Homo sapiens: one gene and its partners. The protein of the gene in region 4 interacts with the protein of the main gene of each other region in a pairwise test. Each region holds a gene or a part of one and is shown on either strand. Other genes may lie near its edges.

Evidence for each region.
Region 1: the proteins of GATM (region 4) and LPIN1 interact in binary tests that used the Homo sapiens proteins (3 or more experiments, as listed by UniProt).
Region 2: the proteins of GATM (region 4) and RPUSD4 interact in binary tests that used the Homo sapiens proteins (3 or more experiments, as listed by UniProt).
Region 3: the proteins of GATM (region 4) and SIRPG interact in binary tests that used the Homo sapiens proteins (3 or more experiments, as listed by UniProt).

The regions. Positions count from the first base shown.
Region 1 is NC_000002.12:11,742,472-11,749,640, reverse strand, and holds the start of LPIN1 (phosphatidate phosphatase LPIN1), read right to left. Parts: upstream 3,010-7,169; 5' UTR 2,970-3,009; intron 1,109-2,969; exon of another isoform or gene 901-1,108; intron 1-900. UniProt on the Homo sapiens protein: Acts as a magnesium-dependent phosphatidate phosphatase enzyme which catalyzes the conversion of phosphatidic acid to diacylglycerol during triglyceride, phosphatidylcholine and phosphatidylethanolamine biosynthesis and therefore controls the metabolism of fatty acids at different levels.
Region 2 is NC_000011.10:126,208,645-126,216,518, reverse strand, and holds the start of RPUSD4 (pseudouridylate synthase RPUSD4, mitochondrial), read left to right. Parts: upstream 1-4,868; 5' UTR 4,869-4,880; coding exon 4,881-5,069; intron 5,070-5,463; coding exon 5,464-5,629; intron 5,630-6,796; coding exon 6,797-6,998; exon of another isoform or gene 6,999-7,025; intron 7,026-7,874. UniProt on the Homo sapiens protein: Catalyzes uridine to pseudouridine isomerization (pseudouridylation) of different mitochondrial RNA substrates. Acts on position 1397 in 16S mitochondrial ribosomal RNA (16S mt-rRNA).
Region 3 is NC_000020.11:1,654,775-1,661,886, reverse strand, and holds the start of SIRPG (signal-regulatory protein gamma isoform 1 precursor), read left to right. Parts: upstream 1-4,107; 5' UTR 4,108-4,172; coding exon 4,173-4,245; intron 4,246-7,112. UniProt on the Homo sapiens protein: Probable immunoglobulin-like cell surface receptor. On binding with CD47, mediates cell-cell adhesion. Engagement on T-cells by CD47 on antigen-presenting cells results in enhanced antigen-specific T-cell proliferation and costimulates T-cell activation.
Region 4 is NC_000015.10:45,361,545-45,368,567, forward strand, and holds part of GATM (glycine amidinotransferase, mitochondrial isoform 1 precursor), read right to left. Parts: intron 6,717-7,023; coding exon 6,526-6,716; intron 4,965-6,525; coding exon 4,827-4,964; intron 4,667-4,826; coding exon 4,502-4,666; intron 3,317-4,501; coding exon 3,253-3,316; intron 2,473-3,252; coding exon 2,356-2,472; intron 678-2,355; coding exon 565-677; 3' UTR 1-564. UniProt on the Homo sapiens protein: Transamidinase that catalyzes the transfer of the amidino group of L-arginine onto the amino moiety of acceptor metabolites such as glycine, beta-alanine, gamma-aminobutyric acid (GABA) and taurine yielding the corresponding guanidine derivatives.

The DNA of each region.
Region 1 (7,169 bases), on a different chromosome or scaffold from region 4:
CATACCTCATTGTGAAAAGTGTCAGCCTGGGTCTGGGTCAGCCCAGACCCAGAGCTTTCTACAGGCAGAAACTCACTACTCAACATATCCCTGGCTGCACAGACCCCACCCCAACCCCAGCTGCTAAGGGCTTGTTGGGGTGAATTACAGGTAGGGAGACAGACAGGGGAAAGCTGTGGAAAGAGGAAGAGGAAGGGAACCCACAGGAAGGGAGGTCAGGGCACTTGCTTCGGACCCCAGCAGCCCCAGGGCCCAGTGTGGCCTCCTAGGGGGCACAGATTCCCTTCAGGCGCTGGTGCATCCTCTGATCAAGGAGCAGGGCCAGTGTGGGTGTGTCCCCTCGACACACAGGCATGGGCCCCTCTCTCTCTCCAGACCCTCCCTCACAGCTCAGAAAGCGAACATTTCAGAAACAGCCATCCGATAGGCACCTGGGCCTCTTCTGAATGAAGAACCTGTGACGTCACTGAACGGCTTTGCTTGGGTTTTGTCCCAACTCTTTTTTCCCCACACACCCCGTTCCAGTTTTAAATGAGTGGGCTTATTATACAATACATTGGTCCAGGGTTCAATAAAGTGTCAAAATTGTGACTTTGCCCTTCTCAAGGAACAAGCCCCAAAGCTGCTAGTGGGTGATTCCAGGGACTTCCTCCTCAGGACCCCTCAAAAGCTCCAAGATCCCACGCCCGGGCTACCAGTGAGGAAGTGCAAGTGCAAACAGGTCGAACCACCAGCCTCGGTGTCCTGGCGGGACCTAACACCTGGATGTCTCTCAAAATGCTCCAAAAGCTGCCGACATCCGTGCAACAGCCCCCTCCCACCCTAAGGAAAAAGCTGCCTGTACCCCTCGACTACCCCCATTGGCAGGCTTGCCCAAATCAATTAACCTCATTTAGGTACCTTTTAGGCCTTGAACCCAGTACACAGATGGTCCGGAAAAGCCAACCGGAAGAGAGGTGGCAGGCAGGGGGAGGGGGTGTCCCACAGGGATGATTTACAGAGCAGAGGCCGGCGTCAGCCAGGACTGTCCCAACCCCACAAAGAGCCCCTCCTCGCTGGCACCCTGTGGCACTTTAAAATCATAACAACCACAATGATTCGTGGACCCCATATTATGTTCCAGGGGCTCTTTTTTATCTCAATTAATTTTTGCAACAATCCTGTGAATGGGTATGATTATCCCTTCATTTTACAGATGGGAAAACTGAGGCTCAGAGGATTGAAGTCTTCTGCCCAAGTTCTACATCTGTGAGTGGTCAGAACAACAACTGCAAAGCCCAGTGCTCTGTGCCGGCCTCGGCGCATCTCAGACCACGGTGGCCTCAGGACCTTCTTCTGAAATATCTTTTCATCTCCTGACCCTCCCCTGCCGTCTGTTCTGGGCCCTTTGTGCAGCTGACCACGCAAAGAGCAGGAGAGCAGGACCCACAGACTTCCTTCTGGCTGGGCCAGGCCAATTGTCCCCACCTAATCCAGGGCAGGCTCCTTCTCAGTCACTTCCAAGGTCCCCCCTACAACCAGGAATCCCTGCGGTCTCTCACCTGAACCCTCGCGTTCTCTCCCACACCACAAGACTCAGCAGGTCCGCCCCTTGTCCCCCTGTGCTTTTCTAAAAGAAAGGAACTGCTGATAAGCGAGACCTGGGTGGGTGAAAGAACTCGCTCAGGGTCCCACAGAGCTCAGGCAGAGCCCAGACCTCCCGACCCGAGTCCAGGGCTATATCCAGGCCTGGCTCCACAGGACCACAGGGCCCCACATGCAAATAGGAATAATAAGCGCCAAAACACACAACCCATGCACAAAAACACTCAATAACAAATGCTGGCAAACGTGAAGTGCTATCAAAGTATATAATCATAAATCCAACTGTTACACCTTTCAACAAGAATCTGGGAGCAAGAAAAGTGTTCATGTGTGGATGTGCTTATTTCTCAAATACTATACATTCCTCAACTGCTTACTTTCATTAATAAGACCCAAATTACGGAACAAAGGATAAACAGTCAATCTCACAATCACTACCCCTAGACCACCATACCACAACACCCCCAATTAAAAAAACGGCTACAAGCTTTGATTTCCCAAAACACTTCTATCCTGTGGGAAACTGCCGGGTTCTAAAACATCTCCAAATTAATACTGCCAGTTGTCTTAGTTGGTTTCCTGCTTGCTGATCAAAAACAGGGTTGACATCTGCTTTCTCCAGCAACTACTGACCACACAAATTACCTACTCTAGCTCCACAGCACTTAAGTTACTCCCAAAACGTTACTTCTCATCCTGCATTTTCCTGGCCTTGCCCATAATAAAATTACGTGCAGGAGCAGCTGACGGAGCTCACTAGGCCTAGCACCTCCTAGGCTGCAAGAAAGGTGCAGAGGCCTCGCAGGGGAGAGCTGTAATATGAGAACCGGGATTCCAACCTGGGCTCAGCCTGCCCTGCCGCCCGGCAACTGTATGACCTTGGGCACAGAGGTCAACCTCCCTGAGCCTCAGTTTCCTCAACTGCAGCGCTGGAATCCTAACTCCGGGGGAAAGAAAGGCTCTCATCCCAGTCCCCGGCGCAAAGCTGGGGATGATCGCGCAGAGCCAGGACGCACCCGCGCTGGCCGGCTGGAGCTAGTCCCCGCGGTTCTGGGACTGCGCGGCAGCCCCCAGTGGCCCCTACGCCGCTCGAGATCAGCCAAGCCGGGCCCACACCGGGCCTCGCGGCGCGTCAGGAAAGCCAGGCCCGAGGGATGCTCGCGAGGCCCTCCCGGCCTCCGGGGCCTGTTTCCCCGCCTCCCTCCCCCGAACCACTTCCCGTAGAGGGCCCCGGGGACGTAGCCCGGCCGTCGGTCCTCGGGCCCCGGGGCCGAGCCCCCGCCTCGCCACGCGTCCTCAGCGCCCCGGCGCCGCGCCCCGCCCCGCCTAACCCGAGGCTGCGGCCCCTGCTCCACAGCGGGAGGCTGGAGGCGGCGGCTACTCACCGAGCGGCGCCGCGCGTGGCCGCCTTTGTATTGCAAACACCCAGCCCGCCGCCGGCTGTCAGCGCAGCTCGCCTTCGGGGGCGGGGCAGGGGCGGGGGCAGAGGGCAGGGGCGGGGCAAGCGGGGCGGTGCGAGGGGGACTCGGGACGCGCTGGTGGCCCGGCTGCTTTCAGGGCCTGCTGGCCGGCCCTGCCCGCTCACCCCTGGCCGCCTATCTTAGCGTTCCTGGGGGTGGGGCCCCTTAGGCCGCCTTTCTGATTTTCCTTTCCAGAGCCAAACTCGTGTGTTTCTTCAACACTCTGACTTGACCTATGCCGATGACTGGGGGAGTGAGGACGGAGGGGTGCAGAGAAAAGGCAGCCAGGTAAAAGTCCAGGTAAACCACCCAGGGCCTGGCCGCGATCACGTCGGTCCTATGGGTCCCGCTTATCACCAGTGGCGGGATCTGAGCCCGTCCTTGACTTTACTGACCCTCGCCCTTCGTTTCTTCCACCTTAAAGGCGCAATCGCGTTGACCTATCGCCATCTCTTCTTAGCTTCTCCACGCCGGGCCACCCCTGTCCTTCATCCTGATGGTGACAGCCTCCACTCCCGCCTCTGCCAAGCGGTGGTCCAGGTGCGGAACGGTGGCTCTGAACAGGAGGGACAGGCAGCTCCCTGCGCCTCTCCAGCCGGGAGGCAGGCAGCGGATAAACAATGAGCCACATAACGTCTGGTGGTGAAATGATTTCCATCAATGGGAGGGTGTCATATTTGAACTGAAACTCTAAATGACAAGAAACACCTATGACTACAAAGATGGGGAGGAGGCAGGGCTTTCTGGAGAGCAGAAATGGCAGGTGCAAAGGTCCTGGGGCCGGTGCTGTGGGCTGGAGGGAAGGCAGGGGCCAAATATTCAGGTCTTGTAGGCCAAGGCAAGGAGTTTAGGTATTATTTAAATGTTATTCCAAACCAATTCTTTTTGAGACAGGGTCCCACTCTGTCACCCAAGCTACAGTGCAGTGGCACAATCTCGGTTCACTGCAGCCTTCACCTTCTGGCCTCAGGCAATCCTCCTGCCTCAGCCTCTCAAGTAGCTGGGACCACAGGTGCATGCCACCACGCCCAGCTAATTTTTCAAACTATTTGTAGAGACCAGGTCTCCCTATGTTGCCCAGGCTGGTCTCAAACTGCTGGGCTCAAGCAGTCTTCCCACCTTGGCTTCCCAAAGTGCTGAGATTACAGGTGTGAACCACCACGCCTGGTCCAAAAAGAATTTTAAACCTGGGAATTATATGATCTAATTTACTTCTTTAAAAAGTCACCCCTCCACTCCATGGAAAATGGACTGCAGGAGTAGAAGCCAGCAGACAGGTGGCACTGCAGGAAACCGGGGGACATGATGGTGGCTCAGATTACAGGGGCTACTCAGCAAGAAGCGGAAGGACTTCAGAGAGATTTGGAGGCAAAACCCACAGGCTTACTGATGAATGGAACCGGTGGAGGTGTGTGATGCGATACTCAAAGGCAAGTCTCAGTGTGGAGATGGAACCGCTGCTCTGCTGAGATGCAGAGGGCCAGGGAGGAGGCCAGCTTAGAAACAGCATCGAATGCGGCAGCTTAGTGAATTGGATAAGCCAGCAAGCTTGAGATAGATGTTTGGGGACAGCTGCTTGGAGAGCTTTGTCCAGGGGCGCGGCTCCCGTCCATCTGGTCAAGTGTGGACACGCTCCCGCTGGGCTTGGGGCAGCTCCTATCTAGGCAGCCTGTCCCATGCTGACATTGCAGACGTGGGAGCTACACAAAGAGAATCTTGCAGTTTGTAGGTGAGCTACCTCCACAGGGGTTTTCTCAGAGACCAGAGTTTCAAGTGCATCACGGCTGCCCAAAACTGCTGAGGTTGCAAGGCCCCAGAAGGAAGCCCTCCTGCACCCTCCCCTCCCACCTCCAGGGAGGAGCTGGCCTGGGAAGAAGTCTACTCTATGTGGAAAGGCTTTCCAGGAAGCCAGTCCAACTTCAGGCCACTTAAGTTTATTTTTTGTGTAAAATAAGTCCATTATTCAAATGTGGAGATGGGAGGTCTGAAAATATAGGACAATTCAACTCAAAGCCCTCATTCTGAAAATGATGAGCTGGGGGGCCCAGCACGGCTAGGGTCAGCTCTGATGAGCAGGGTCTGGCTGGATTCAGAGCAAATTAGGTCCCGCTGCTGCCCAGCCTACCACCTCGGGGAAGGCCAAGGGTTGGGGGGAGCCTTTTGTATAAACAAGCAATGAGAAGAAAACACTCACTAGATCACAGTGCACTCCCAGGCGATAAACGAAACCGGACTTTCCAAAGCCCTGGCGCTTTTGATCAGGCACTGGCTGGAGTCCCCCTGGGAGGGCCCTTGGCTGTGCTATCAGCAACCAGGCCTGACTGAGCAGTGACTCAGCCAGGAGAGCTGAGGCGATCCCCCTGGCCAATCCCAGGACCTAGCTGCACTCGGAAGAGGAGAAGGAACTCCAGGGATGAGTAATCTTGCTCTAGCTGACTGGAGGAGGAAGGAGGGGCTGAGTAATGCCTTAGCAAAGCCAGCACAAGCATCCTGATTCTAGAGGCTCAGTTTCACAATCCAGGAAATGGGCTGCAGGTGCACATGACACAGATCTGCTTTGAGGATGAAAAAGGCATCATGGGAAGCTGCTGTCACAGTTGTGGGGTTGGAAGATTTTTCAATTCTAAAACCCCATAAGTTGAGGAGTGGCCATTCCCAGAAGGATCTGTTCACTGCTGAGCCCAGCTGGTGACAGTAGCTGTTGTATCCCGAGAACTCTGAAGTTGTCCAGATCAACCACCTACACAGGCCCAGAATACCTGGGGCAAGGTAGGCGGGAAGAATGAGCATCCCTCTTCACGGGTGCCCTGCGAGCTACTGTAGGAAGGAGAAACACTGGCTGATCCCCCAGGACTCTGAGCATGGTTAGCTCTGTAACTGCCCGGGCAGAAAGGATCCCAAAGAGAGGACAATGAATTCTTCCCCTAGAGGTGCAGACTTTTATCCCTGGCACCAGTGCCTGGGGCTCCGGGGAAGGGAGGGCATCTCCTCGGGGTCTAAGGCCACTCCTTGGTTGGGGGCCCCTCACGAGGTGACTTTGTCCTGCGCACTCTCTTAAGAACCAGGTGGGAACCAGGGGCCACCTGGTGCCGCTTCACTACCTTGGTGGCAGGGAACAGAGCAGCCTGGGAATCCACCCAAGGTGGAATGGGGCCCCCTGGGTGCTGTGGCTGGCTGAGCAGGGAAGTTTCATGGGGAAGAGGCAGGTGTAAAAGGTTCTGGGTTCCGCAGGGAGAGGACAGTGATCCTCGGAGAGCAAACAGCTGGAACCAAAGCACAGAAGGTTTTGACGGTCACCCGGGCTATCCAGAGGCCCACTTCACAGTTAGGGCAGGGCCTGCAGATTAGAGTTGAGGCACAGGAAGTGGCAGAGTGATAAAGGCTGACAGCTGGACACACAGGAGCATCTTGGAGGCCCTAGGCTGAGCACTGGGGGCTACAAAGGGGAGCAGACCAGACACAGTGTCTGTCCTCAGGGAGTGCACAGTCTGGGTTGTGATCGCGTAAAAACTGTCACAGTGCTTCAGGCCGCTGTGAACTGAAGGGCCGTGCACTGATGCAGGATTTGACCTGCCCTGTCCCCAAGCAAGAGGATTCACCTGACCTTGGTGGCCTAAGCAGGCACCGACCTAGGCAAATCTAGGCCAGGTGTCAAGGAGCAGAATGAACCACGGGCCAGCCAGCAGCACATGCACAGCAGTCAGGCACGCACAGGTGCTTGAAAGAAGGCCGTGGCTGGCCGCTGGTGGGCGGGGGAGCTCGGGAGCTCACAGCAAGCCCCATGCCTGTCTCCCACTGGATGAAGCCAGAGGGGGTCTGGAACGCCCTTTCTCCTCTGGTCAGATTGGGAACAATTCATAATGAGCGGGGCTAAGACACAGAACAGCAGAGAGGCAGGAAAGAAGAAAGAGACCAAGGTGCGAGGAGCGGACAGGGAAAGAGACCTCAACATGACCAGGGATGGGAGGAGAGAACTCCATTACTTAGAAACAGTGGCTGCTATGCTGGGAAGTGTGGACTGTTACAGTGGGCTCTAATTCCAGGAGGAACAAAAAGACCCCGCATATCACCATGAGTCAGTCCTCTGAGTCGCCATGACCCATGACCTTGCTAAACAAGTGTGGG
Region 2 (7,874 bases), on a different chromosome or scaffold from region 4:
GTTTCAAGAATACTGATGGTGTTGACCACTTACTGTAAAGACAGAGGAAAAGAGGAAAACAACTGAGTGGTTGCCTCTAAAGAATGGGACTTTGAGGTAGGGAGGGCAGAGAAACGGTTTTTGTTTTGTTGGGTTTTTTTTTGGTGACAGAGTCTCGCTCTGTCACCTAGGCTGGAGTGCAATGGTGCGACCTCGACTCACCGCAACCTCCATCTCTCCAGTTCCAGCGATTCTCCTACCTCAGCCTCCCAAGTAGCTGGGATTACAGGCACACACCACCATGCTCAGCTAATTTTAGTATTTTTAGTAGAGATTGGGTTTCACCATGTTGGCCAGGCTGGTCTTGAACTCCTGACCTCAGGCAATCCACCTGCCTCAGCCTCCCAAAGTGCTGGGATTACAGGTATGAGCCACTGGACCTGGCCTGAGAAACTGTTTTTTAATTCCAAATCTTTTATTACTATTTGACTTTTAAACTGTATTACACAAATTACTTTTTCTTTTTTGAGATGGGTCTGTCTCTGTCACCCAGGCTGGAGTGCAGTACTGCAATCATGGTTCACTGCAGCTGCAGCCTTGAATTCCCGGGCTCAAATGATCCTCCCACCTCAGCCTCAAGGGTTAGTTAGGACCATAGGTGCGTCACCATGCCCAGCTAATTTTGTGATTTTCTGTAGAGACGAGGTCTTGCTATGTTGCCCAGGCGATCTCAAACTCCTAGGCTCAAAAGATCCTCCCCGCTAGGCCTCCCAAAGTGCTGGGATTAAGGTGTGAGCCATGCACCCCACCCCCATTTAGGACATTTTTTTTTTTTTTTTTTTTGAGACGGAGTCTCATACTTTCACCCAGGCTGGAATGCAGTGGCGCGATCTTGGCTCACTGCAAGCTCTGCCTCCTGGGTTCACGCCACTCTCCTGCCTCAGCCTCCCGAGTAGCTGGGACTACAGGTGCCTGCCACCACGCCCAGCTAATTTTTGTATTTTTAGTAGAGACAGGGTTTCACCGTGTTAGCCAGGATGCTCTCCATCTCCTGATCTCGTGATCCGCCCACCTCGGCCTCCCAAAGTGCTAGGGTTACAGGCGTAAGCCACCGCGCCTGGCCAGAAATCTTAAAAGTATATTCCAACACCACTCAATGAAGTAACCTCCAAACATAAACATTAGCTCAGTGGCAAAAAGTTAAATTCTGGGGACAAGAGCAGAATCCAGTTTCTTAGTATCAATGCTAAATGTATTCAAGATAAATCTGAAATAAATCCCACTAATTCGGGCTGAAAGAGAAGTATTTCAGTATCAGTGGAAAATCTTCATAGACTAGAAACAGAGTTGCAAAAATCTTTCAAATGACAAAAAACTGAAGCCCAAATTATTTGTTCAAGTACGCAGCGGCTGAACTGGAACTAGTCCCACATCTCCTGGCTCCCAATGACTGTACTTTCCAGGGCACCTCCCAAGAGTTCCTGCTAATTGCCTCCTTTAATCTCTCTAAAACCATAAAACAATGTCCAAGTACTTCCTGCTCTTCAAGGAAATGGAATCGCTGGTTAATCTGCAACTAGCAAATCACAGTTTGAGGAGGCGTAACTTAACTTTATACCACTAATTAACCTTAAATTTGTGATAAACGCAAGTTCCTTTATTAGTTAGTCCTTGTTTGTTTATATTTGCGAAATACTAATGCAGCCTTTTTGTTCCTGAATAGACTAGGAAATATCTTTAAAAAGAAACTATCAAGTTCTTCTTTATATGGTTACTTTAGGGGCACATATTATGATATATCAAAATCAATGTAAATAAGTCATGTTTGAACAGAGCCGTAGTCTGCAAGAATGAAGAAATCACTAATAGAATTTCCTTCCTTGTTCTAAGAAAACATTTAGACAAGAGGAGTTCCCAACAAATGGACTGTGACATTGGCGCAGAAGTGGAAAAGTGAACTGCCTAAAAAAGGACCAGCTGAATGAGGAACAGGGAGGAGGCAATATAGAGGTAAAAAAAAAAAAACAAAAAAAAAACAAAAAAAAAAAACAGAAACAAAAGAGTTTTTTGCAGTGGCAGTATTGCAGCCAATGAGGTTTATCTGAGGGGTGATTATTGCTCTTTGAAAATTGGAAAAAAAAAAAAAAAAAAGACATGACATTTGCATAAATTCTTTTTTTTTTTTTTGAGATGGAGTCTTGCTGTGTTGCCCAGACTGGAGTGCAGTGATGCGATCTCGGCTCACTGCAAGCTCCGCCTCCCGGGTTCACGCCATTCTCCCGCCTCAGCCTCCCGAGTAGCTGGGATTACAGGCGCCTGCCACCGCGCCTGGCTAATTTTTTTTTTGTATTTTTAGTAGAGACGGGGGTTTCACCATGTTAGCCAGGATGGTCTCGATCTCCTGACCTCGTGATCTGCCCGCCTCAGCCTCCCAAAGTGCTGGGATTACAGGCGTGGGCCACCGCGCCCGGCCACATAAATTCTTTATACTGAGAACAACTCTACTTTAAATCACCAAGTGCCTAGACTCACCGGAGAAACATTAAGGATGTCATAACTTATGTACCCATACTGGCTAAAGCTGCACTGTCATACCAAACAAAAACTTTGAATTCTTTAAATTTCTCTACAAAGTTTCAACAAGACAAACCTAAAAGTTCCTTCTCCAGAAAAAAGGGACCAATATTTTTATTCTTAAGTCACTAAGTGTGTGCTTTGAGTTAACCTGAAACCCTAGAGCATAAGCTCTGTGTCACTAGCAATGACATTTGAGTTGGTTCTTCATTTTGTTTCCCGCCACAGAAGGCCAACTCTGCAAGAACAGGTGTAGTTTCTTGAATGCCATAAGGTTAGGGTAGAAACAGCCTCTCCCATCCCCGACACAAAACCATAAAAGTCCTGTACCCAAAACAAGTTTTTAATTAATGTAATGATATGAATTTAAGTCCCGATGTCAAAACTTCAGGGTCCTTGGAAAATTGAGCTTCAAGTATCTAAGTAATATGTGATGTTCAAGTGAAATTAGAACCTAGGTCTGGAGCATGGAAGGTAATAATTCTTTTAGGGTGGAATTTCTCAACTTTTATAGACCTCTGTCTTACTGGTAAATTTGCAGGGGGTGGGTGGGGAACAGGAGAAACAGATGTTTCCCAATCTCCCTTGGAAATCTTTGCATTTGTATCTGGATCTGCATTTACACCTGCCTTATAAGAGAAACGTACACAAGCCTTGCTTCTTTCCCACTTTACAAATACATCTTCCTCTACCTTCATTCTTCAGGCCAAACATTGACAGAAATAAGACAATTCAAAATGTTCAGACACACCTAGCATACATTTATGATGCACTTCAGCCATCTAACAGATATCGAGTTTACTATGTGCCAGGTGAGTGGATTAAAAAAAAAAATTCTTCCAGGGACTCACAGATCAACAGCAGCTGCCAAGAGTACGCCTTGACCTGCATAACTCAATTAATTCAAACTCAAAGGAGTTACAGTGTAGGGGGAAAAGACCAGACCTCATCACTGACCACCTAGATTGTAACTAGTTTTCCTACTATCAAACCCTTTCCTTCCCCACTATCAAACCCTTTCCTTCCCCATCTGTCCTGCATTCAACTGCCAGATTCATTTCCAGAATTCCACTTTCAAGGAGTCTCTCTGCCCTACTCGAAAAGCTTCAAAGACTCCTCACTACGTATCACCTCTAGTTCAAACTCTTCAACTTGAGTCTTCTATGAGTAGCTCCACCTGATCAACTTTGTTTCTTGTTGGTACGGCTCCCTTCTGCCAAACCCTTTAGGAGGTGTAGAACCCAAATCTAATTCAACTACCTATTCTCTAATAACTCCTCAGGCAGCCTTCATTCCAAGCAGTCTTAAAAAATTGTTCCTTCTATCGTCACAGATCCATTAGTTTTCAGGACATTCTTTCTGAACTCAGCATAAGCTTTCCTCTTAACAAATGGCAGGTATATCCCAAGTTATTTTTAACACTACCATCCCAAACAGATGTTTATCTTCCCAGCCACCCCTGAGTGAAATCAGAGGGAGTCGCCTGCAGTTCGGGCAAGGGAATCCCAACATCGCATCTCGTGAGAGGAGGTATGGTGTGGTTGCAAACTATGGAGAGGAAAAATAAAGGAAACAGGAAAAGTGAAGGTCTGTGCTCCGTTCTTTCAGCTTTTTCTTTAGGAGGAGTAGGGAAGGTAGGGAGGAGACCCCCAAGAAATGAATTCTTGAGGAAGGGCAGAAAAAACACTCACAGTGCTTCCTAAGTAGGAAATAGGTGCTGGGGGCCCTGGATAAGGGAAGGGGCCGTCATCCTTAGGAGAAGGGTACAGGTTACAACGCGAAACAAAGAGGCTGGGAGTTGGAAGATGAAGGGTGGAGAGACTACAGAGATCCGGGCATCCGATCAAGAGGGTCCCCGACGCGTCCCGCAGGGGACTGGCGGATCACCGGAGATTCAGTGGCTAAGAGGGACGGCGTCGGTGCCTAGGAGGGCTCTGGGGCGAGCGTTTATGGGACATCGCTCCTAAGGGGGCGCGGGGGCGGGGAGGAGTTTTTGAGTGGGATCGTGTACCAAAAGGAGAAACGTTTCTCAGACCAGTGCTCTTCTTGAACGGAAATCCCGGGGACGCAGAAAACGTTAAACCGTTGAGGCACCGGCATTTCCCAGCCCCAGCCCGGCTTCCCTACACACTCACCGAGTCTCCTCCAAACGCCACTGCTCCAGCTGCAGCTACCGGCCGGCGCAGCCGCACTGAGCGCGCACCGTCCCCACGTGACTCGCCCAGGCCCCACCCCGCACCACGTGACCTGCAGGGCCCACCCACTCCCGCCTCATTGTAGTCGCCCTTCTCCACGTGGTCTTGGCTCGCCCCGCCCTTCCTTGTAAGATGGCGGCGCCCAGGTGGAGCGCGTCGGGCCCCTGGATCCGGGGAAACGGCCAAGGTTGCGGGAGTCTCTTCACTCTCGTCTCAAAGCCATTTTGTGCCGCTGCCGCTGCCTCTACGGCCATAAATGCCCAGAGATTAGCGGAGAAGCTCCGAGCCCAGAAACGGGAACAAGACACAAAGAAGGAGCCGGTGAGTCCAAAGGGACCAGAACTCCCTAGAGGCAGTGCGCTCATTGGTTTCCCAGACGGGGAGTAGGTAGGAGGGTCCTCTGAGTGAAAGCGTGTGAGTCAATAGCCCGGACGCAAGGTGGGAGAATGGGGAGAAGGCGGAGGGGAGGGGTCAGTAAGGGTACGGTGTTTTCCCGTGAGCTGGATCTTTGGCTACTGTCAGGCTCAGTCCTAACCACTGCGTCGGTACGCAGGTTAGACAGATGGGTATCTCTGCTCTCAAATTAGTCGAAGGCGGCGCGGGTCTGATGCAAAGATAGTCATTCCCTACTCAGATTCTCACCCAGACCTTTATGGAAGGTCTTCTCCACGGCTTCCGCACCAGGCATTCCCCACGGCTCCTTCTTTCTCCCTAGGTGTCCACAAACGCTGTTCAGCGGAGAGTGCAAGAAATAGTGCGGTTCACACGGCAGCTGCAGCGAGTCCACCCCAACGTGCTTGCTAAGGCACTGACCCGAGGAATTCTCCACCAGGACAAGAACCTTGTGGTCATCAATAAGCCCTACGGTCTCCCTGTGCATGGTAAGGACCACGCGGGAAAGGTGGAGGAACCTGCAGCTGCTTTCTGCTACAACCGAGGAAAACTGAGACGTTACTTGTGGTGCACTCTAAAGCCTTGCATTCAAATTAATTAAACTTTTGTAAACTACCGTCCAATATAAGGAACCACCGAGAACACAGAAATAAATAAATAAGACAGTCCTCCCTTTCTAAACATCTGACAGTAAGCAATTCGTAGAATACGCTGTGTGCAGACTACAGGGATCGCTGTAGAGATATACAAAGGCTGTGTGGTTCTAGACTAAAGGTTATCTTCCATCAGAACTGGGAATGAGAAAATGATACATAAGAAAAAAGGGGGTGTGTGTGTGTGTGTGTGTGTGTGTGTGTATGTATGTTGGAGTATATGTAACATACAACCCCAGAGTGACTGGAATTTAGTGGACCTTCAAATGTCTTTCAACAGATGTTGCATGTAGTTGTCAGGGACAGCTGAAGTGAATCAGGAAAGATTGATTTAAAAAATGCATTTGTGAAAGAGGGAAAAGGCCCATTTTAGCTAGAAGAAGGTAATGCTTTTTGGGGAGATACGGAGATAGTTGTTCACAAAGACAAGGAATTAAATCACATCACCAAGTGTTTGTATAATTTTTTTCTCTCTTTATTTTCGCAACAGTTTTTTGCCTTTCCATTCCCCAATGAAGTTGTTTTCCAGATATTTACATTTTATAACGAGAAAGCAAAGTTGGAAAGAGAAGTAATGTGTCCAAGGTCAAAAAAATGGCTAGTAAGAAGAGTAGAGTAGAACCCCAGGAATGTCTAACCCCGAAGTCTATCCTCCTAATCACTCTTATTTAATGCTTCTCGAAGGCCTCATGGTTTTTCAAAGTATGTCTGAGAGGAAGCCACATGCTCTAGAATGGTGTTTCTCAAACTTTAATATGCTTCTGAATCACTTGGGCAGCTTGTAAAATGCAGATTCTGACTGAGTAGTCTAGGTTGAGAGCCTGAGATTCACTTCTAATAAGCTCCCTAGACATGCCATTGTTGCTAGTCTCTGGACCACACTTCAGTAGTAAGGCTCTAGAAAATATTGACAGTTTATCCATTAAGGGCTTTTCTCCCAAGGAGAGTTCTTTGGCGAGATCTTTTCCTGGCCGCTCAAACCTTTGGCTTTTTCCTTCTTAGGTGGCCCTGGGGTCCAGCTCTGCATCACTGATGTACTACCTATCCTGGCAAAGATGCTTCATGGCCACAAGGCAGAGCCCTTGCATCTGTGCCACCGGCTGGACAAGGAAACCACAGGTGTAATGGTGTTGGCTTGGGACAAGGACATGGCACATCAAGTCCAAGAGTTGTTTAGAACCCGTCAGGTGGTGAAGAAGTACTGGTATGAGGCCTGCTGATGGCAGTAGAGGTGGTATAAGTGGAGGCATTTCTTTCACCTATTTATTCATTAAAAACAGAAACTCCCATTAATAGAAGGCACTGCACTATGACCTGCGAGATTGTAAAAAATATGTGAAACAGCTTTGGTGCTTAGAATATTAAGTCTGATAGAACAGTGGTTCTTAATTCTGGTATACATCAAAATTATCAAAAATTAATTATACAAGCATGGGGTGGACATGGTGGCTCACGCCTGTAATCACAGCACTTTGAGAGGCAGAGGTGGGAGGATCACTTTAGGCCAAGAGTCGGAGAACAGCCTGGGCAACATAGTGACACCTTTTCTCTATAAAAAGTAAGAAGTTAGTCCGGTATAGTGGCACATACCTGTAGTCCCAGCTACTTGGGAGGCCAGGGTGGGAGGATCACTTGAGCCCAGGAGTTTGAGGTTACAGTGAGCTATGATCACACCACTGCACTCCAGCCTGGGTGACAGAGTGAGATCCTGTCTCTAAAGAAAAAAAAATTAATTAATTATACAAGTAATATATGATTTTATTCCCATGCTAAAAATAGTCAAACAACAAAGATCATGTGAAAAACTCCTGGAGAATCCACCCATTCTGCCATTCTAGTGTTTTCTCTTGAGGTAACAACCCATGTAATCAGTTTGGTTTTTTTTCCTCTGGTTCTTACTCAACGCATTTACATATATGTCTAGTGTATACAGTATACGCGTGTGCGGCGTACGCAGTATACGCGTGTCCGGCATACGCAGAATATGCGTGTCTGGTGTACGCAGTATATGCGTGTCTGGTGTATGCAGTATATGCATGTGTACATATGTATGTACACATATATATCTATATATATATCA
Region 3 (7,112 bases), on a different chromosome or scaffold from region 4:
ACCCCTGGCATGAGATGAGTGCCTCTGAAACAGAGAGCAGGTTCTGGGGCAGTGGACCTCTCTCCAGTACTGGCTAAATCTACCCAGGCCTGGGAACCCCAAGCACAGACATCCACAACTTCCCAGAGATGGCAACTGTGTCCACTTCCTCTTTCACAATGGAGGATTGTCCCAGTCTCATGGCCCTTTCTCCCTACAGCTACCTCACTCCTCAGACAACATAGCAGATAAGCAGATGCCCTCCTTTCCTGCAGAGTAGAGTCTGGATTCTCTCCATGAGACAGTCTGACAGGGCAGGCAATGTCCATCCCTGTCTCCCAGCCCATCTGGACAGCCCCTGCCACTTCCTCTGCTACCAGGACTCACAGGTGAGTGAGTGCAGCCTGCTCTACATGAGTGTATTTCTACATGGTGTCTCCTCACCCTCTCAGCCCATGTTACCTGCTCCTATTGATTTACATTTGGGAGCATTTTCTTCTCTCCCATCCCAGCATGAGACAAGATTTGGAACAGCTTTTCCATGAGCATTTGAGTAGACCCTTACTGGGGTCATATTGATTCCCCCAGACGTCATGCCTATAGCATGCCCCTGGTGCTGGTAATGACTCCATGATTCTAGGGCTGGGCACATGACCTCAGCTCATCATCGTCGTACTCCACCTCCACCAGCCACTGGCCAAGGTTGTCACACAGCATCATAAATTCTTGAGGGCAGAGGATCTGTTTTTTAAAATTGTTGCTATTACCAAAACACTACCTAATAACGATAATATCTAACTACTATCTATAATGATAATGGTAATACTGAATATATAACTTTTGGAGGACATGGTCAGATAGTATTAAGTAATTTGCATATATTAGTTCATTTAATTCTCATCACAAACTTATGAAGATGGTATGATTATTCTCTCCGTTGTACACTTGGGGAAACTCAGGAAACAGGGAAGTTAATAGTGACCCCAGGATCACACAGCTGGGACCCATTAGAGCTGGATTTCAGACCAGGAAGTTTTGATTCTTAAGCCCACAGTCTTACATCTTTAGTCTTCTGGAGCATCCACTGGCTCCCAGTTTCTCATGTGTCCCAAAGTCGTCCCTGGTTATCTGCACCTGCTGTGATGAGTCAGGGTGAAATATGGCAGATAAAGGAGAATTTTGGCTCATGGACTCCCAGGTTCCTGGTCCTCTCAAACATTCAGATTTTATCTATGCTTCCCCAAGTCACCTAAATTTAAATTTCAATTCTCCACGTGATTTCCACAAAAATTGTAAGCATCTGTGTACTTAGTTGATCTTTACTGAAGGATTGAAGTTCACAGGAAGGCACTTGCTGCTCTAAGCACAGATTCTGCCATCTTCCTGACACTATACTATGCATTTTTGAGTCATATACGCCCAATTCTTATTTTTGGAGACATAATACTTTATGACTCACACCTCTCAAAGTAATGTAGTAATGTGGATAGGTAAAAATAGAGCAATAGGAAAAGATATACCACAATATTGTGGTATATTTTTACCTATCCACATTACTTTGTTTGGGTGTGTCTCTGTGCTGTACCACAGGAAATTTCCCCTACATAATCACCCAGCTTACTAACTTACTATTATACTTATTTATGTATAGTCAGCTAGTCAACCTATTAAGTTTTTTTAAAAAATTTCAGCACTGATTATGTTTTCATTTCCAAAGTCTGTGTTTTGGTATTTTTTCAAGATGGTTGTTGTTACCTCATGCCCGCCTATTTCTGTTTCATATTATTACATGCCTGATGTTGGTTTATGAATTTACTTCTCTTTTGTTTTCCTTATAAGATCATTAAGTATACTAACTTTAAAGAACTTTACACATTTTGTTTTTTCATATTTGCTCAGGTGTGAAGTTCTTTTGATTGCTATTTGTTTTTGAGTTATTGTTTTTCTTGAATTTGTTAGCTGCAGTGCTGTTCCTCAAATCTTTGGTGATTCTTGCTTGCACTTCCGTCTTCCCAGGAATAATTCCCCATGTGATCATGGGTTGTCAGGGCCTCGTGGAGCATGGCACCTGCCCCAGCCTCACTATGAGGGCTGCTCCTAATTGAGGCTATAGCTTCTTCTCTGCTTTCTTCCTGAGGGATGTCTCTCCCTTCCTGCAAGAGGTATCATAGTACAACCATTAAAAGTGAAGGCTGTGGAGTGTGGCAGCCTATGTTCCAGTTCTAAAAGCCGGGTGATCTTGAGCAAATTCATTACTCTCCATGTGCCTCGGGTTTTCTCACCTGTGAAAGGAGGTTAATGGTTGAGCTTACCTCATGGGGTCAGAGCAATGATTTAATGACATTACCAATAGAAAAATGCTTGGCACCATATCTGGAGCACAGGAAACTCTCAATAAATGATAGCTGTTATAATTCCTTCATGTCATATAGAAGCCAATTGCTTGTATTCAAGTGTAATTAGACATTGATTCATATATTCTTTTCATTTTGTGTTTTCACTACTGTGGGTGTGGAGAAGGAGGGGAAGATTTCACCCTGTGTACATCTGCCACATTAAAACAGGACTTTCAATTAAAACATGATAACATTTACAATTTGATTTGACAATTATTCATGACAGATTAAGAACCTAAAACCCACATGTGAGATGAAGGATTCTGGACAGGTCTTTCTTAGTCATAGATGCTGGAAGAGAAATCATTTCTTTTAACAAGGTGGCTTTTCTAAGGCACAACGGTGGCAGAGAACCAGTGGACTCTTCCTGTACACAGAAAATAATTATAGCCATGTTTTTTTGCTTATAATTAATTATGAGTCAAGCATTCAGTATGGCTTATATTATTCCTACCATAGCTCTACAAGGTGCATATTCTAACATTTATTTACATACAATCAAACCAAGGCTCAGAGAAGTAGTGTCTTTTTGAAAATCACACAGCTGGAAATTGTAAGAGGAGGAATTAATCTATGGTTGAACAAGGAGCGGGATTTAGAGAATCCAGAGGGAGAAACTGATTTCAGGGTGGCAGCGAGAGTCCAAATACACTATATAAGCTGGGTCTCAGGAGGCCTGGGTTGCTGGGAGAAAGCCACTGGTGGGCAACTCAGCATGCAGGAGGGATCCATTCAAAAGCAACATTTGAGTTCCCGCACTTCACCTGGCACCGTGAGTATCAATAATGACCTACTGGGTTTCAGGCATGATATGCTCATTACCTCTTTAATCGTCACTAAAACACTGCACAAAAAGACTTACTATTCCCAGTTTAGGAGATTGAAACTGAGCATAGGAGGGCCCAGCGACTTCCCCAACTCCTTGGCACACACTCTTGGCAGGAGCATGGATTTTTCCTCTTTCCTCATTTCCCATCCGAACTCAGTGATGAATGAAATAGGTGCTCTGTGTGTAGAAGAAAGGGTATTGAAATTGATGCGACGGCCCCAGGAACCTGCCCACCATAATCTTCCCTCATGATAACCCTATCCCCTTTCCATAACCCACAATCCCCACCTCACTCCACAAAGCAGTTGCTTATTACCTCAAACCCAGTTTCTCTCCTGGAAGGAGTCAAGAAATAATTCCTTCTGCTGGGTGCAGGCACATGAAAGTGCTAAGGTCCACAAGAGACTGAATTTGGGCTAAGTGTTGCCAATTATAGCAATTTGGAATAGAAAATCATTTCAGGAGAAGATCTGGTTCCTCTCCAGTGTTGAGCAGGTCCTGTGAACTCTTCTCCTACGTCCAGCGGAGTGGCATTTGGTTGAGGCTGGTGCAGAACAAGACCACAAGCCAACCACATCCTAGGGTCTTGAAATAAAGACTTTAGAAAACAATACCTAACAACAGATCTTTCTTGACTTAAAAGCCTCAAATGGCAAATCACCAAGAAGACCTGAAAATGGGTTTGGGGACACGAGGAGGGAGCACAGGTCCCAGGCAGGCAGGAAGCATTATTTCTGCTAACCCTGTCTGATTATCCTGAAAATGGAGCACGATTAACTCCTTGCTTTGTAGCTGCCTACTGTGCCTGATTTGTAAGTCACAATCTAGAAGCAGGTTACTGTTGCATTCCATCATAGCCACTTCCTCTTGAATTGAGGGAGGCAGGGCTTGTCTTCTGTCTTCAGAGCAGGGCCTGACATCTCCCCAGAACAGACGTTTGAACAGAGCAGGCTTCTGAGGTCTCCAAAATGCCTGTCCCAGCCTCCTGGCCCCATCCTCCTGGTCCTTTCCTGCTTCTGACTCTACTGCTGGGACTTACAGGTGAGCATTGCATTGGGCTAGAACCCTTTCTCCCTGCTTCCTGGACCTAGCCTTGCCCCTGGACTTGCAGCAATTTCAGATAAGCACAAGCACTGCCAAGGAAGGTCAAGGACTGGACATTGTCCAAGAGCAGAAGATCAGGGAGCTGAGCACTTTCTCTGTGGATCTGCAGCTGGCTACCAGAGGCATCAAACCTTGTGAGGCTTCTGCCACCATCACAATTAGTTACATTTTTATAATATTTTATTTGACAAACACAGAAGAATCATTATTAAATCCTTACCTGTCTTGAGTCCTCCTACCCATTTTTGTGTGCCCTCCTCCTCTTTAAGAAGTTCCACATTTCATGCTTACAGCGTCCTATATTCCTTTCTTAGGGCTTCCACAACAAAGCACCACAGACTCAGTAACTAAAACAATAGACATTTACTTTCTTTCTTTCAGTTCTGGAGGCTGAATTGCAAAATCAAGATGCCAGCAGGGTTAGTTTCTACTGAGGTCTTTCTCCTTGGCTTGTAGAAGGCCATCTCCTCCATGTGTCTTGACACATGGTCTTCCTCTGTGTGTGTCTGTATTCTCATTTTCTCTTATGAGAACATCAGCCATATTGGATTAAGGCTCCCCGCCAGTGACCTCATTTAACTAAATTGCTTCACCCATTTATGCCTAGTGCTCCGTTATTGGATCACTAAGCTTGCGGGAGTTATTTATATCCTACTGCTCAAGGGCATCGCCAAGGTCTGATTTTTCAAATTAAAAAAAAATTGCAACCTCGGGCATAAATGGGTTAAAGACCTTGTCTCCAAATATGGTCAAATTCTAAGGCGCTGGGGATTGGGGCTTCAACCCATTCGTTTTGGGGGCACATTCAGCCCATAACAGGCACCACCATCTCCCTTGGTCATCTTGACTTTCCTCTGGAGAATTTATTTTCCCTTCCCCCAGGCAGACAGGATTGGGAGGTCTTTCCTGGTGCCACCTGAGAGAGCCCTGTTCACAGCTCCCAGACAGGCTGCCTGTCTTCACCCCTTTTTCAGACCATGCAGCTGACCCCCGGTCACAGGGCTGGGCACAATAGCCTCTCAGTTGCCCACTGGGCCCTGCTGTGATGTCATCTCACAGGTCTTAGAGGGCAAGGTCTCACTTTTCAAATTATTTTTTTTACACATACACTGTACCCAAATGACAGCAGTAATAGTTCAGCAATTGCTCTCTTCCTGTAAGGCAGATGCACTTCTTAGCATTTTGTGTGTATTAAGTCAACTAATCCTCACAGCATCCCTGTGTGGAAGCTATAACTCTTGTGCTCTATTTGCAAATGGGGAGTGAGGCAGAGGCAGGAACCTGTTCATTGTCCCCTACTTCAGTCCATGGAGCAGTTGGGATCAAGTCCAGGTTGACCAGTTCCAGAGTTTATCACCCTTTTAACCATGTTATGCTATGTGTAGAAATATTAGAAAATGCAGGCAAGCAAACATTAGATTAATAATCACCCATCACACCAGTCAGAAACAATCAGAGGTAAAACACTAGTGTATGTATGTTTTCCCAAAATGTTAAAAATGTGTTGGATGGTTTCTATGTGCCAAATATTTTACTGAGATTTTTAAATTTGTCATAATTGTAATTAATGCACAAAACAACCTTATATACTAACATGATAAGCCAAACTTTTATATATATTTGTGAATGTGTATATATACACATTATATACACATATATATGCACATGTGCCTATGCATGTACATGTACATGCACAGATGAGATTTCATTTTTAATCATTGGTTCTCTTTCTATTTTCAGTGAAATTTTTAACAAAATAAATATTTTATTTTATTTTTATTTGACAAAAGTATGTATACTTATGTACAACATATTAAGAAATATGCATACATTGTGGAATGACTAATTTGAACTAATAAACATATGCATTACCTTACATATTTATCATTTTTTATTGTGAGAACTCGTAAACTCTGCTCTCTCAGCAGTTTTCAAGAATACAATTCATATTATTAAGTATAAACACCACATTGTACAATAGATATCTTGAACTTATTTCTCTTATTTAAATTGAAATTTTGTATCCTTTGACTAATATCTCCCCAACTACACCCCCTCTCTAGCCCCCGATAAACACCATTCTACTTTCTACTTCTATGAGCTCAACTTTTTAGATTCTTCATACGTGAAATCATACAGTGTTTGTCTTTCCGTGCCTGGCTTATTTCACTTAGCAGAATGTCCTCCAGGTTCATCCATGTTGTTGCAAATGACAGGGTTTCCCTTTTTGTAAGGCTGATTAGAATTTCATTGTGCATATATGCTACATTTTCTTTCTCCATTTATCTGCTGATAGACACCTAGGTTGATTCCATATCTTGGCTTTTGTAAATAATGCTGCAATGGACATGGGAGTGCAGATATATGTGTGACATGCTGATGTCATTTCCTTTGGATATATGCCAGTAGTGAGATTACCAGATCAGATAAGAGTTATATTTTTAATTTCTTGAGGAACCTGCATACTGTTTTCACTAATGGCTCTACTAATTTATATTCCCACCAACTGTCTGCAAGGGTTCCCTTTTCTCCACATCTTCTCCAATACTAAATTTCCTCTTTTTGATAATAGCCATTCTTAAAGGTGTGAGATGATAGCCCACTGCGGTTTTAATTTGCATTTATCTCATGAATAGTAAGGTTGGATTTTTTTTTATACGCTGACTTGCCATCTTAATGTCTTCTTCTGAGAAATGTCTATTCGGATCTTTGGCCCATATTTTAATAGGGTTGTTTTCTTATGGTTGAGTTGTTTGACTTCCTTATATATTTTGTATACTGACTCCTTATCAGATGTATGGTTT
Region 4 (7,023 bases):
ACAAAAAATTAAAAATTACCCAAATTCCTTATTAGAAAAAGAGACAATTACCTGGTTCTACTTAGGATCTGTGTATGTTCTAAGTCTTTCTCTCCTTTAGAAAAAAAGAGATAATCTGATTCTATTTTGGATCTGTGTACATTCTAAGTCTTTCTCTCATTTAGAGAAAAACATTCTCAAGTCTATAGAAGAGGAAAAAAAATTAAGATTAGGACCAACATTTCAAGCTGCCTTTTGGAAAGAAAATTAAAAACAGAGGTAGATGGTTAATTATTAGTGGCCAAGTTACTCAGGTGACTAATTTTTTCTTGGTACACATTCACCAAAATTTTATACTTGAAGCCAAATAGTAAATAACTTTAGGAGTAGAGAGTAATACCTAGCAGAAGTTATTTTCTTTATGTCAAAGAAAAGTAATAGAAGCAAACCAGGCTTACGACCCCTGTTAAGGAGATGATTGTTTAAAGCACTACAGTTCATGCACTTTTTAAAGCAGGAGAATGAACCTTGCCCCTAAGCTTCTTAGGTGTATCTGAGGCCAGCCACAAGCTCCATCAGGCCTGTTCAGTCCAAGTAGGACTGTAAGGTGCCTCGGCGCCGGACATCGCAGGTCCAGCAATGGAAGCCTCCTCCCAGGGAATTGGCATTACGAATGTTAACTTTAATGGTAGTGATACCTGCATTGAAAGAGAGATGAGGTCAGTTAGATGGACTAACATGACGATTCTCATAGAGAAAGTAGGCCTACAGACTTGGAGGAGTCCTGTGGTTCTAATCCTTAAGGATACCCAACCCAGAATAGTATTTTCTCTTCCAATTTTATTTTCACCAACTATATTTCATCTGCTAATATAAAATCTTCTCCAAAAAGTCAACAGAGAACTCTGAAGTTTTGTTCTATTGACTATTCACAAGTCAATAGACTGAGCAGATGTACCTACCAAATGTTCAAAATGGTCAAGTACTAAAATCTCAAGGCCTTTTAGAATTATACATTAACTACTTTGTCAGACTGTTTCTAATTTTACCATGTTAATTTAGTAGGCAAAGCAAAATTTAGCTGACCTAAAAAGCTGACTTTACATATTCACATATAAGGAGAGTTTATCTGATACAGATTAACTTCACCAGGCCACCATAAGGAAACAATGGAACAGAGCTGGTGTTTTAATATCTGGGTTTGTATGGTTATACAGGTACCAAAGCAAATCCAACAATCAGTTTAATCTGGTACCATCTGTAATGACAAGGCTATGATGTGCATGGCCTATTTAACCAATGGTATTTAGGAAGAATCTGTTGTGTTAGATATAGTGGGGTTTTAAAAAGAAAATCTATTATTCTTCCTCAAGGAGCTAATTATTTTGAGAGGAGGATAGGCTACAAAGTCACTAAAGGGTCCATTGGTATAGCCAGGGAGAGGAAGGTGGCATGAGCCATTCAGAAAGACTTTCCTAGTCGCGCATGGTAGCTCACACCCATAATCCCAATGCTATGGGAGGCATAGGTGGATGGATCACTTGAGGTCAGGAGTTCGAGACCAGCCTGGCCAAGCCCCTCTCTACTAAAAATACAAAATTAGCCAGGCATGGTGGTGTATGCTTGTAATCCCAGCTACTCAGGAGGCTGCGGCAGGAGAATCGCTTGAACCCAGAAAGTGTAGGTTGCAGTGAGCCGAGGTCACGCCACTACACTACAGCCTGGGCGACACAGCTCTGTCTCAAAATACACACACACACCCCTTTATAATAGCTCATATGAAAATCCTTTCCCTTCAACATTTTTCTCAATAATACTAGAATCATTGGTCTAAATTTTGAATATCAGGATAAGTAAACTACTTAAGTAAAACCTGGTCCTGCTCTTCAGTTCAAAACTGAATGATTTACTGACACACTTTCTTGCATTTCGCTACTTTGTTAACTATGCTTATCACACATAAAAGTCACTTCTGCATCCGTACCCTTTTGAGTCCTTTGAAATATGTGATGACAGGACACTTTTAAAGGACCCACAATGATTTCTTATTTGAAGAAGGGCTGAACAAGCTATCTGCTCACCTGCAAAGGGGTGGTTTTCTGCACATGGGCACCAAAACGTTGGCTAAGTCATATAAGATTTATAAACTTATTGTTAAGGGGATGTCTCAGGAGCTCAGGATGCATCTCCAACTTGTTGGGGCTACGTGTGTTGAAAATAAAAATACTGACTTTCTGTGAAATAATAACTTGGTGCCTCTAAAAGGAATCAAAATTGAATTAGACAAACCATTTATCAAACCTAGCATGTCATTTCTTTAGTTCTTCTCATTTAACGTTTTCATGTATGACAACATGTTTCATTTGTTGTACATACCCAGCTTTTCAAACATCTTTTGAATTGGAACTTCATTGGCATCCACCATAACACGTTTTTCATCTAGCATTAAGACATTCATGGAAAGCCATTTGGATGACATCCAGAGTGGATGATCTAAAAACAGCAACAACTGTTAAACCATGTCCGCTATCATTTTTGTTTAAAGCAAGGATTTACAAGTGAAGAATATTAAAGTGACAGCTCAGTTCTTTCAGTAGTTCACTTTCCATGTGAACATTTATTTTAATCTTAAAACAATTTATCTATAAATGGTATGAATCAATCTGTACTCATTATACATTTGAATTTCACCCTGTTTTCTTTTAAAAGTCATATCTTGGCTGGGCATGGTATAATCCTAGCACTTTGGGAGGCTGAGGCAGGAGGATTCCTTGAGCCTAGGAGTTTGAGACTATTGCCCAGAGATGGTGCCTCACTGGGGAACACAGCAAGACATCATCTCTACAAATAAAAAAAAATAACTTGCTGGGCATAGTGGCCTGCATTTGTAGTCCCAGCTACTTAGGAAGCTGGAGTGGAAAGATCACTTGAGCCCAGGAGTCTTGAGGCTGCAGTGAGCTGTGACTGCACAACTGCACTCAAGCCTGGGTGACAAAGCAAGACACTGTCTCAAAAAAAAAAAAAAAGTCATATCTTGCTTTACGTGATGTTGTTTTATTCTGTCTTCTCCTTACTTCATTTTCTATGGATGAAAAAGTTGCAAACACAAGTCCCAGCCTTGTTCTGATGCTCACAGTCCCAAGCACCACTTCACACCTTACTGAGGAAACACATTCTCTAAGCTGCTAACATTTGGGCTGCTCTCTATAGGAGAAAGATCCTTGGTCACTAAAGTAATTATTTTAGTCTAACAGTGTATGAAAGTAAACATACCGTCTGGGATGATTGGTGTTGGAGGAGTAATGATAGTCCATCCTGCTTTCTTGAAAAGATCAATCTGTAAGACCAAAAAAAACCCCCAAAACCGTTAAATCTACATATACTATTATTATTATTAGTCTCTAATAGCCCTTATCAGTAATAATTCTCTTTGAGAAGCTGTCTTCTCAGCTTCCAAAAGAAAGAAATTAAAATTTCTAAACATTTGGGTGATTTTGTCTGAATCCTAATTAAAAATGTACATAAAATCCCCAGATTAAAGTTAAAAAGTAACAGAAATGTTACAGCTTTTAAAGATAGTCTTAACTTTTCTCAGGTTTCAGAGACTTAAAAAACCAAAGATACTGTCCTTAAGAAATTCTCATTTTAAAAATTGAAAAATTTCCTATTTAGTTACAAGAAAACAAAAATGTGACTACATCAAACCCACAGTCCTTCTACTTCTTGCCCATCATTTTGTATCTAGGACCATGGTATAAAGACAGTTGTTAGCTATGCATTCTCAAAGAACCATATTGTCCTTAGTGACCTTTTACAACTTAGCCGTCCCTGTGTTCACATACCCACTTACTATACGAATAAATGATAATAAAATGAAATGAATAAGTAGTCATGGTCATCGGGTTTAAAAATAAAAAACAGAAATGAACAGTGACACAGTATAACAGTGGTTTTTAAAAGTTGTACTGCAGCCTTGCAAGTAACAGAAAATCACTCATCACCTAACTGGAAGTAGGAGGCTATGGACAGAAAGTAGGAGGCTGCAGGTGAAGGGGATAGACCAGCTGCAGTGCAGTGGCTTCACTTTTCCCTACAGAGCAGGGTTGGCCAAAGGGAGGCTACCCCACTGTAGAGGGAATACAACCACTGCCCAGTGGCATTGCCCTGGCCATGCAAGGATGATCTTGTCCAAAATTCGCTGCTGTGGAACCACTGTTGCAAGTTATAACACCATCGTTTGATAAAAATACACACATATGCACAAACTTGAGGCTCTGACAACAGCAAGTGGCCAAAGTCTGATGATCCCATACTAATTATTGTGTCAACTATGTATATTTCTGCATGGTGGACATCTTGTAATAAGCCATAAGGAATCCAATGTTTGATCATAATAATGTTGAGTACTGCTGAATCTGTCATTTAGAACCATTAGGAACCATGGAAGTGCTTAAAATAAAAGTGGCAATTATTTTAGTTACTAGATTCTGTTGCTTTTCCAGAGTCCCAAGAAATCTCTTACCTGGTGACATGGTCGGTCAGGGTTGGAAAGCACAATACCAGGTCCAATGATGTTGAAGGTAGCATCAATATGCATGGGATTGGGATCTTTAAAGGAGATGATATGCACTCTGTAGTCTGGAGCAAGATGCCTACGCATCCATTCAATGCCTAGGTAGTTTGTAACCTGAAAACAAAAGAAAGACATACGATCGATAAATATTTGGTTCTATGTCTAGAAAACTAAAAATATTCAAGGTGAAAAAAATTTAGGATGAAAATATTTTAATTTGGAAGTAAAGAATACAATAATATAGTGTGAAATTTCAGAGGCAGCCTGCGTTCACCTGGCTTCTCTGTGCAAAAATATCTCTTCCAGCTCGAATGAAGTCAGCAGCATCAAAGCATGGCTCAAACTCAGTTGTCACAAATTTTCCCTGAGCAGCCAATTTGTGTCTGTCTTCTACAGAGTGGATGGGATAATCCTAATTGGAACAAGAATGAACACACACAATGCACTGGATCATGAGAAAATTATTCATAAGGCATACAGTACTAAGAAAATTAGTTTAACATCATTTCCCAAAATATTACTACTCAGTTCTAGACTAAAACATGCCTGGGAAAGAAGCGGGTCCATGATAAATAAACCAAAACAACAATAAAACAAGAAACTAGCATTATAGTAATTTCCTGATACAACAGTCCTCCTTTACCCATGATTTCACTTTCCATGGTTTCAGTTACCTTCAGTCAACTGTCGTCCCAAAACATTAAGATATTTTGAGAGAAACAGAGAGACCACATTCACCTAACTTTTAGTAAAGTATATTTATATAATTGTTCCATTTTATTATTCATTATTGTTGTTAGGCTCTTACTGTGCCTAATTTGTAAATTAAACTTTATCATAGGTATGTATATATGTACAGGAAAAAACAAAATATATAGAGTTCAGTATCAGCATCCACTGAGAGTCTGGAACATATCCCCTGAGGATGAAGGGGCACTATGTACTTAGAAAAAAATGGTACACACCAGGTGAGATGGCTCATGCCTGTAATCCCAGCACTTTGGGAGGCCAAGGCAGGTGGATCACCTGAGGTCAGGAGTTCGAGACCAGCCTGGCCAACATGGTGAAACCCCGTTTCTACTAAAAATACAAAAATTCGTCAGGCATGGTGGCATGCACCTGTAATCCCAGCTACCCAGGAGGCTGAGGCAGGAGAATTGCTGGAACCCGGGAGGCAGAGGCTGCAGTGAGCCGAGATCACGCCACTGCACTCCAGTCTGGGTGACAGAGCAAGACTCCATCTCAAAAAAAAAAAAAAAGTGATACAGAGGCAGTAACTGATTCTGAGAATATTCCATGAACCGTACGGAAAGTAAACAGGATGAAGTCATTCTGTTCTTTTAGAAAAGGAATTTGGTCCCGAGCTTAACTCATACCATAAAACGAGATGCCATGTTTCCCCTGCCAAATTTGATTGGGAGTGGCAAAACTAATTCATTATTTATTTCTGTCTTTAAACCCAGAAGCTATTTTGATTTTTAAATTTTTTTCTATAAAAGATCAAATGGTAACTGATTTAATAAGGGACATACATTTCATTTTACTGTGAATTTGAACTGTAGATCAGGTTCTTTTTCTAGAAGAAGAAAGTGAACTTCAGTCTAGTGACTTTTCTGGTTCCACTAATGAACAGTGGTACACCTGTAGGCAAGTTTTTCCCCATCTAATGGAATGATACTACAGTATGATTAGGGTTGTTGTGAAAAACAAACAGGATTGAGGATGTAAATAAAGGGTTTAACCCAGGACCCAGAACAAGGTAAGCACCAAAAAGTGTTAGCCATTATTATTATTATCATAGGATCATTTACTCTTATCATATTCATCATAAAATAATCACTTTTTAAAAATAAGATGATGTTTTCGGTTTCTAAAATGCATAATATATACAAGGTATCAGAGAATCTCTATCTTACTCTTTGTGGATCATTTAGAAAAGTTAGTAATAAGCTAGCCTATAATTAGGGACTCACCTGGTTATAAAGCTCATCAGCCATTGTGGGCTTAGGAGCTGTTGTCCACTTGGCGCCACGGTGGAAGTAGTCTTTGATAATTGACCTGTACGCTCGGTACTCAAAGAAGCGTGAACGCCATGCCATGGGAGCCTCGATAATCTCATTGCCCACAACTATCAGGATGTCTCGAGGCATTGCACTGTATAAACCTGTCAGACCAAAAAATTCCATGACAACTTCAGTAGTGTTAATTTCCAAGACAAAAAAGGTCTATATAGGGCCAGGCACAGTGGCTCATGCCTGTAATCCCACCACTTTGGGAGGCCAAGACGGGCGGATCACTTGATCCTCTTCAAGAGCAGCCTGGCCAACATGGTCAAGCCCCATCTCTACTAAAAGAATACGAAAACAATTAGCCAGGCATGGTGGCACGTGCCTGTAATCCTAGCTACTCGGGAGACTGAGGCAGGAGAATCACTTGAACCAAGAGGCAAAGGCTGCAGTGAGCCGAGATTG